Regions from separate parts of the Homo sapiens genome. Here all the other regions are linked to region 2. The links come from fine-mapping of genetic effects on gene expression. A gene starts in region 2. Each other region holds a variant in brackets. All regions are shown on one strand. Distances are between the middles of the regions.

What was found. PIP is the estimated chance that this variant, and not a neighbour inherited with it, causes the effect.
Region 1: its variant is fine-mapped to the expression of EREG in whole blood (TOPMed, PIP 0.98).
Region 3: its variant is fine-mapped to the expression of EREG in whole blood (INTERVAL, PIP above 0.99).

What each region holds. Positions count from the first base shown.
Region 1 is chr4:74,329,287-74,332,056 of GRCh38, reverse strand. LOC105377276 (a long non-coding RNA gene) reads left to right here. Exons shown (of 3, transcript NR_188415.1): 2 at 1,753-1,859. Among named protein-coding and RNA genes, the nearest start is that of EPGN, 22 kb to the right of the region's middle. RefSeq lists a cis regulatory region at 1,271-1,570. The variant C/G (reference allele first, on the strand shown) is at 1,261.
Region 2 is chr4:74,364,063-74,366,832 of GRCh38, reverse strand. EREG (epiregulin) reads right to left here and starts at 1,688. Exons shown (of 5, transcript NM_001432.3): 1 at 1,458-1,688. The coding sequence starts at 1,524. LOC105377276 (a long non-coding RNA gene) reads left to right here and starts at 1,492. Exons shown (of 3, transcript NR_188415.1): 1 at 1,492-1,682.
Region 3 is chr4:74,261,102-74,263,871 of GRCh38, reverse strand. The region is part of intron 6 of MTHFD2L (methylenetetrahydrofolate dehydrogenase (NADP+ dependent) 2 like); the gene reads right to left. Among named protein-coding and RNA genes, the nearest start is that of EPGN, 46 kb to the left of the region's middle. The variant T/C (reference allele first, on the strand shown) is at 1,553.

The sequences.
Region 1 (2,770 bases), 35 kb after region 2:
GGAGTCCCTGCTTTTAGTTTCTCTCCTATTTTAAAAGTGATACATAGTACTTCTCCTTAAGACATAAATATTTAATGATATTAATAGTTAACTATATCTTTTACAGTCATTCTTAGTTTTTATAATTTTGTAACATGGTCTCTTTTTAGTCAATATCTTTGTTCTTTATTTGAACAAGACAAGAATTTAGCACACCGGAACTCCTTTCTAAATTTTCCCTCCAATCTTCCTTTATTATTGTTGTCTGGTGTTTAAGTTTCACATTGTTAATTTGTAAATGTTGTCACAAATTAATTTTAATTTCTACTCAATTGACAAACACATATCTCTGACTTCCTTGCTCATCACTGATACTTGCATGGTATTTTTTTCTCCTGGGTTCTTGTTTCATCTTGCTGAAATACATTCACTGGCAGTCTTCAGTATCGTTTAGAGGTGATATGGTTTGTCTCTGTCTCCCTACCCAAATCTCATGTTGAATTGCAGTTCTCAATGTTGGGGGAAGGACCTGGTGGCAGGTAATTGGATCATGGGGGTGCATGTCCCCCTTGCTGTTCTCATGATAGTGAGTGAATTCTCGTGGGATCTGGTGGTTTAAAAGTGTGTGGCACTCCCACTTCTCTGTCTCTCTCATGCCACCATGTAAAGACATGCTTGCTTCCCCTTCACCCTTCCACCATGATTGTAACTTTCCTGAGGCCTCCCCAGGCATGCCTCTTGTACAGCCTGTGGAACTGTGAGTTGATTAAATCTCTTTTTATAAGTTACCCAGTTTCAGGTAATTCTTTACACCAGTGTGAGAATGAACCAATACAAGAGATATTAAACTCTTAGTCTTTTGTAGATACAGAATATTATAAGCTCTACGTTCTTCAACTTAGACTTTGCTGGGAAGGACAATAGGAGTTTACAAGCCCTAAGGATGAGTTTAATGGGGAAACTTGAAAAAAATTAGAAGACAACTACCATTAGTCTTTGGAAAGGTAAACCTCTGATTATAACATAGATTATATAGAAAAAAGAAAGTAAGCAAACATTAACCGGTGAATTACTACAAAATTACATTAAATTTATTGTTTGTTTTCTTAGGATCTCACTGTGTCACTGCAGTGGGATAATTTAGGAATCAGAGAGACTGAGGGGCCGGAGAGGATATATATTATTTATTATTTAGGTGCACTGGCCTAGTCAGATTAGCATCCAAAAAGACTGAGCCCCGAACAAAGAGTGAGGTTACCTTTTAAGCATTTCATGGGGCAG[C/G]GGGAGATCTTTGCAGGGGGAAGCATATTACAGAAGTGAGAAACAAAGACCGTTATTCAATTGAGACACTCATTACATTATTTCTAACTTTTCAAGGAAAAACATGTTTTACGACTTGAGTTTATCTGCCTAGTAACCTTGCAACTGCACAGTTAGAGAAACAGGATCTTCGCAATGCCTGGGAAAGAGAGAGATAAGACTCACAAGCCACAGACAGAAAAACAGGCGTTAATTTTTAAAGGACTCCACCTCTTTTTCTTTCTCAGGGGGAATTGGGTTTTTTTACATACAACTGAGTTTTCGCTTACACGTTCTTTAATTTCTTTTAATTCCTGTTTCATCACCAGGCTGGAATGTAGTGGTGCAATAACAGCTCACTGTAGCCTCGACCTCCTGGGCTCAAGCCATCCCCAACCTCACCCTCCCGAGTAGCTGGGACCACAGGCGTGTGCCACCACACTCAGCTAATTTATTTAAAACAATTTTTTTTAGAGATGAGGTCTCCCTTTGTTGCCCAGCTGGTCTGAAATTCCTGGTTTCAAGTGACCCTCACACGTCAGCCTCCTAAAGAGGTGAAGTTATAAGCATGAACCATTGTGGTAAGTCTTTGTTTGTTTTTTATATTATCATCATAAAGTTGAGTTTCTCTTTCCATATGTTTGCTAAGAAGAATAAAATAATTTATAAATTTGGTTGATTTATAATCCTGAGTCACAAAATGTTTGTTTAAAAAACTATATCTGTTAAAATATTTGTCCTAGAAAACTTTGCATTTAAACTTTGTCTGTCCTTGAAAAAAATGTGAAATTAACTTGTTGTATAGACCATGGTTGAATTTTTGTAGCTTCAATTATACATAAGTGGTTTGAGTTTACTTGTTAGAAATACCAAGATCCTTTGTGGCTGTGGCTGAATGTCTATTTTTTTGTTTTTACTATCAAAGGTGGTAGAATTCTATGTTAACAGAGATTTCCCCTGAGTATTTTGAACACTTTATTCCATTGTGTTATGGCATCTACTTTCACTGATGAGAAATCTACTGCCATTATAATTAACTAGTTTTCTTTTTTAGTAATATTTCTTTTTGTGTGTATGGCTTTGAAGTTTTTAAACTATGTTTTTTAAACTAAGTTTTAAGACTATGAATACAACTTCAATTTAAAGATTTATATCCTGCTTTCATTCTGAAAGTTCTCAGCCATTATCTCTTAGATATTTCCTCTAACCTAGCCTTTCCTTCTGGAACTCATGTTGGGCTTTTTTTTTTTTTCTGAAATTTTCATGCTTTACATCTCTTTACTTTGTGATGCATTCTAGCTGATTTCTTCAGATCATCTTCCATATTTCTAATCTTCTCTTCAGCTGTGCCTACTGTAGTACTTATTCTACTTACAAGATATGTTTTTAAATACTGAAGACTGTATTTTTAACTGTAGGATTTTTACTTGTCTATTTTATCCATATAATGCTCTTATCTTCTGGGGTGTTTCCTTTCTTGTCTCTGAACATT
Region 2 (2,770 bases):
GACGAAATAGATGAACTATAATTAAGTAATGCAATGAAGGAGGTAAGCACTTTCATGACAACAAACACACACACAACACACACACTAGTGGGTAGTAACCAGGTTATTCACAGGCTCTGGCTGTCTCAAATTAGAATATTCAATGAAACACCCAGAACAGACATGTGCATTGTTCAGATGCAACCTTACATGTGGGGAAAATAATAAGTGCTAAGTTATTCTGACCTCGAGGTTAATTTCTAACTCTAGGAAGACTGTCACCTTTCTAATTTAATTCTTTTCAAAACAAAGACAGCAAAGCCACATTGTTTACTGAGAATCTTCTAGCAAGTCTTTCTTAGCTCAGTTTTGGCAGAAACCACATATCTAGTTTCCACTTGTGTTCCTGGACTTAGACTTGTAAGTTTCAATTATGCATAGTATGCATTTCATTAGGTCTCTCAACCCCTGAGATAAGGTGTGCCAAAATAATAATTTAACAGTCACATCCTTCACAGGTAGAGTTAGAGTGTCTGGGGAATCAGCCTCATTCCAACTCCAGGGAGAATATGAGACTGGTGGTAACTTTTATTTTTTTATTAAGATATTCATATACGACTTCAAACTCTTTCAAATTCCTTAAACTGAAGTTTAAGGAATTGGAAAGAAGTAATTTTTTTTTAACAGAAAGGCTATTTAGAAAATTTTTCCCCTTGAACTAAATCATCTCAAATAGGAAGACTGGCATTTAAATACCCTCAGCGATCACAGGCTATGGAGTGCAATTAGCAGCAAGTGCAGAACGCTTGCTCCAGAGGCTGCTTGGGAGGCTGCAGGGAAAAACGCAAGCAGCAGGTGTAGGGGCGAAGGGCGGTGGGGAGCGCCAGGACCTGCCCAGGGCCCTTCTGCTCCAGATACCCTCGACCAGTGTTTTATTTCTCTTGTGTCTGGAGCTCAGCCAACTGGCACTGGCGCATACCAGCTCCTCCGGGAAAGCTAAACCAGGCTAGGTTTTAGAAAACTGAGCGCAAGACAGAGGAGAAAAGCTTTTTCCCCCCTCCAAAAAATTTCTTACGCTAGTTTCTATTCCCCACTCTCCAACAAAAAGGAACAAGACATGAAATGTTAACAGTGCGTTCCAGGCCTTTAGATTTCTAGGACTGGCAACTTTTCAAAAAAAAAAAAAAAGCTTTTTCAACAACTTTTTATTTTGTTTAATAAGGAGATATTTCAATCCATGCATAACATATATGCCAATAATTAATTCACCAATAAAAAGCATTTTAACATCGATCCCCAGTCCCCCCCACCCCAGTCCCACCATAGGGGAAGACAGACTCACAAAACAAGACGTAATTTTAAATAGAGCACACTTGAACCTGGAGACAACTCCGTACTTGTCGAATGACAAATGCACAGGAGCCTTCCTTATTTGTCTCCTCTTTGGGGCGGCCGGAAGCCAGAGGGGGAGAACTTACCCAGGCAGAGCAGCAGCGCAGGGACCCTGCCGGCACAGAGCATCTCCATCCTCCTCCCCGCGGTCATCGGCGATGGGAGCGGGCGCTGGGGCTTGGCGGAGGGCGGCTGCGGAGAGTGCACGGGCAGGGCGGGAGCAGACGGGCTCGCGGCAGTGGCTGGAGAGCGGCTGTCAGCCTAGAAGGGACCCCACGTTGGCTGTGTCCCTCTGACACTGGAAATATCAGGCAAGTGAGCTCAACTGTCTGGTGCTGCGAACTTTATACTAGGGAGCCCCTCCCGGGCCCTAACGGGGTGAGGTCAAGAGTGCCCAGAGTTTCATAATTGGCCCGAGGGAGGAGCGGCAGGAGGACCGTCAGGAAGTCATCCTCCCTCCCTGGAGCACCTGAGAGTAGTGGTTGAGGAATGAAAAAATGTCTTTCCGATTGGCCGGGGACTACTCCCGAAACTTTTCCATCTCCCTCCGGGAGGTGGGGAGCGTGGACCAGATGGCTTGGTTTGCTTTGTGGGGTCACCTGCCCTGTAGTGGGTGGTTTTGGTTGCTCAGGGTGACGGACATAACTTGAATCAGTCTTTTAGCCAAGGCTGGCGTTCCCCATACATGCCTTTGGAGAGCTGTGCGTGTGACTTACTAACCTCAGCCACGAAAACTCCCTTAACTTGAAGTCTGTCAGTGATTCAAGCGCCCTCCTTGCATTGAAACGCCACCGCCCAGAAAAGCCTTTCCCATCTGCGCCTTCCTTCTGAGACCCCTGCTTCCAATGTGGCTCAGGCATTTATTACCTCAAAGTCGAGTCATTGTGAAGAAAATTCCTGTTATTTTTTTTCCTTCTGTCGTATTTGCCATTTGTCAGGTTGCTGCTTTTGATATGACTTCCTACTAAGTAGTGCCTTAATCCTGTCGCTCCCCTGCACAAAACCTTTCAACGACTTCCTATTGCTTTTTGGACAAGGCCTGCCACAAACGTGAAGCCAATCGGTCTTTTCAACCTCAGCTCCCACTATTTCCCCAGGCAAATTGTCTGACCCCAGCCAGGCTGGAAAACTCTAAGCCTTTCCTCACTCCCACTTTCCTGCCTATGCTGATGGAGTCGTACTTTGAGGCAATGGCTACTTTTTAAAGGAATTAGTGAAATCCTGCTCAAATTCATGGTTCTCCTCAAGGGCCTGGGCTTCTTAGGCTTGTGGATCTCTTTTCATTCTGATCTCTTATAGCTTTTGTCGTTTATCTTCTCCCTAGCCTCATAGAATTCTAGACCCGGTACTTTACACCTGGGAAAGCTACTTTGTATTCCTTGACTTTTTTTTTGTTTGT
Region 3 (2,770 bases), 100 kb after region 2:
CCTTATTTGGTCATGATGCATTGCCCTTTTAATATACTGAATTATGCAGGCAAGAGAAAGAAATAAAGGCATCTAAATAGGAAGTCAAACTATCCCTGTTTGCAGATGACATGATCCTATATTTAGAAAACCCCACAGTCTCAGCCAGAAAGCTTATTAAGCTGAAAAACAACTTCCTCAAAGTCTCAAAATACAAAATTAATATGCAAAAATCACTAGCATTCCTATATAACAACACCAGTCAAGAGCCAAATCAGGAATGAACTCCCATTCACAATTACCACAAAAAGAGTAAAATATAATACCTCAGAATACAGCTAATTAGGGAGGTGAAAGATCTCTACAAGGAGAACTACTAACCATTGCTCAAAGAAATCAGAGATGACACAAAAAAAATGGAAAAACATTCCATGTTCATGGATAGAAAGAATCAATATCATTAAAATGGCCATACTGCCCAAAGCAATTTATAGATTCAATTTATAGATTTTAGAATGTTGACATTCTTCACAGAACTAGAGAGAACAATTGTAAAATTCATATGGAACCAAAAAAGAGCTCAAATAGCCAAGGCAATCTTAAGCAAAAAGAACAAAACTGGAGGCATCATGCTACCCGACTTCAAATTATATTTACAGGGTTACATTAACCAAAACAACGTGGTACTGGTACAAAAACAGACACACAGACCAATGGAACAGAATAGAGAACGTAGAAATAAGACAGCACACACACACACATAAATATACATACATATGTATACATATATACACATATATATATAGGATTACATTTGGATTAAAATTTTGAAACTACTAAGGTGTAACTGACATACAGAAAGCTGTCCATATTTAATGTAAACAACTTGGTGAGTTGAGAGATAAGTACACACTCTATTCCTCTATTGGTGAATGTTTTAGCTGCTTTCAATTATTTACTATCACCAACGAGCTGTAATACAGATTTCTGAATATACAGGTCAGGTATTTTTAGATATGTGGAAAAATAATGGAATCTCTAGGTCATATGAAGTGCACATTTTCAGATTTCATAACATTGTCAAATTACCTTCTAGAGGGACTATAATAAAGCATAACTTCATCAGCAGCATATGCAAGTATGTGCTTCCCTGGATCCTTGCCAACATTTGATATCATCAAGCTTTTCATTTTTTGCCAATCTGATGTGTGCAAACAGTGTCTTGTTTTGCTTTAATTTGCAATTGTCTGATTATCAGTGACATTGAGCAATTTTTACATGTGTATTAGCCATTTAAATATCCTTTCCTATAAATTGTTCTTTTAAAAGTTAGGTTTTTGTATTTTCAACCATATTTTTAAAAACATATTTATATATGCTGCATACTAATTCTTTGTTATGTATAATGCAAATATTTTCTCCCAATAAAATGCTAAAATTTTAACTCTAAGAGGCACTTGTTCCATAGATTTTAGGAATTATATATATATACCTCCAGCTTTTCTGTTTATTTTTACTCACATATTTGTCTGTATATTTGTGTGTATCTTTTCTAAGAAAATCCTACCTGCTC[T/C]AAATTTATGACCAAGTTCTATTAAGTTCTCCAATAATTTTTATTTTTGTTGTTTTTAATTTATGTTCTTTATCTCATCTGAAATATATTTGTATGTATGGGGTGAGTAGGAGTTTAACTAGATTTTTTTCCTAAATGGGAAGTCAAATGTTTTAATACTATTGATTGAAGTATTTAGTTTTTCCCCAGTGTTTAATGACACTACCCTATTTACATAGATTCACACATACGAATGTGTGTTTGTTTTTTCATCCTTCCCCATTATTTGTCTTTTCTTATGCCTATGCTTTAATTTTAATTACCAGTTCTTTATAATATGATTTGAGACAGAATAAAATACTACTCTGTTCATAATAATTAACATTTGTTGAGTCAGTCAGCGTTCTAAGTGCTTTACACGTATTATCTCTATTTGACCTTAGAACAATATATGATGTAGATGTTATTATCCCTACTTCGGAGGTAAGGAAACTGAGGAACAGAGAGCTTGAGTAACTTATAACTTAGGTAGCAAGCTCACACAACTTGCAAGTGGGAAAGCTAAGAAGCAGAAGGAAAAAGTCTTCTTACGCTTTTTCTTCCAATTAATCTTTATTCTTATAAATATGTGGATGCTAATAATAATTACAAGTTGCTAGGCATAATTTTGAACTATTTCAAATAAATCATGACATATGGTCACATTATTTATAAGATAATGCTTTTGTGGAATAAATCTTTCCACTCCTGTGCAAAATCATGAGCCTTTGGATGGTATGGAATTTATTGCTTTATTTGGCAATAATAGCATTCTTACGTGAATAAATTCTCCCACGCAAAAACATGGGTTAGAGCTCTACTTGCTCAGACTTTTCCCTTTGATTATATATTTGAAAAGTTCTTTCTATATTCTTGTTTCTGTTTAGTTTTATTCCAATGAATTTTATAGTTTTATTACTACTGTGAGTGGAATATATTTTCTATTACATTTTCTAATTATATATTATTGATATCTGTAGATACTACCTACATTTACGTTGTTATTGTATTCAGCAACCTTGCTGAACTTTCTCATTAGTTCTAATATTTTATCAGTTGATTATCTTGAGCTTTATGGATAAACTATCATACCTTCAAAGAACACCACCTCGTCTCCTCTTAGAAGTCTTTGTCTCCTAACTCATGTCTGTCAACTTGTTGCATTAGCCAGGAACACCAACAATACAATGCTGGAAAATA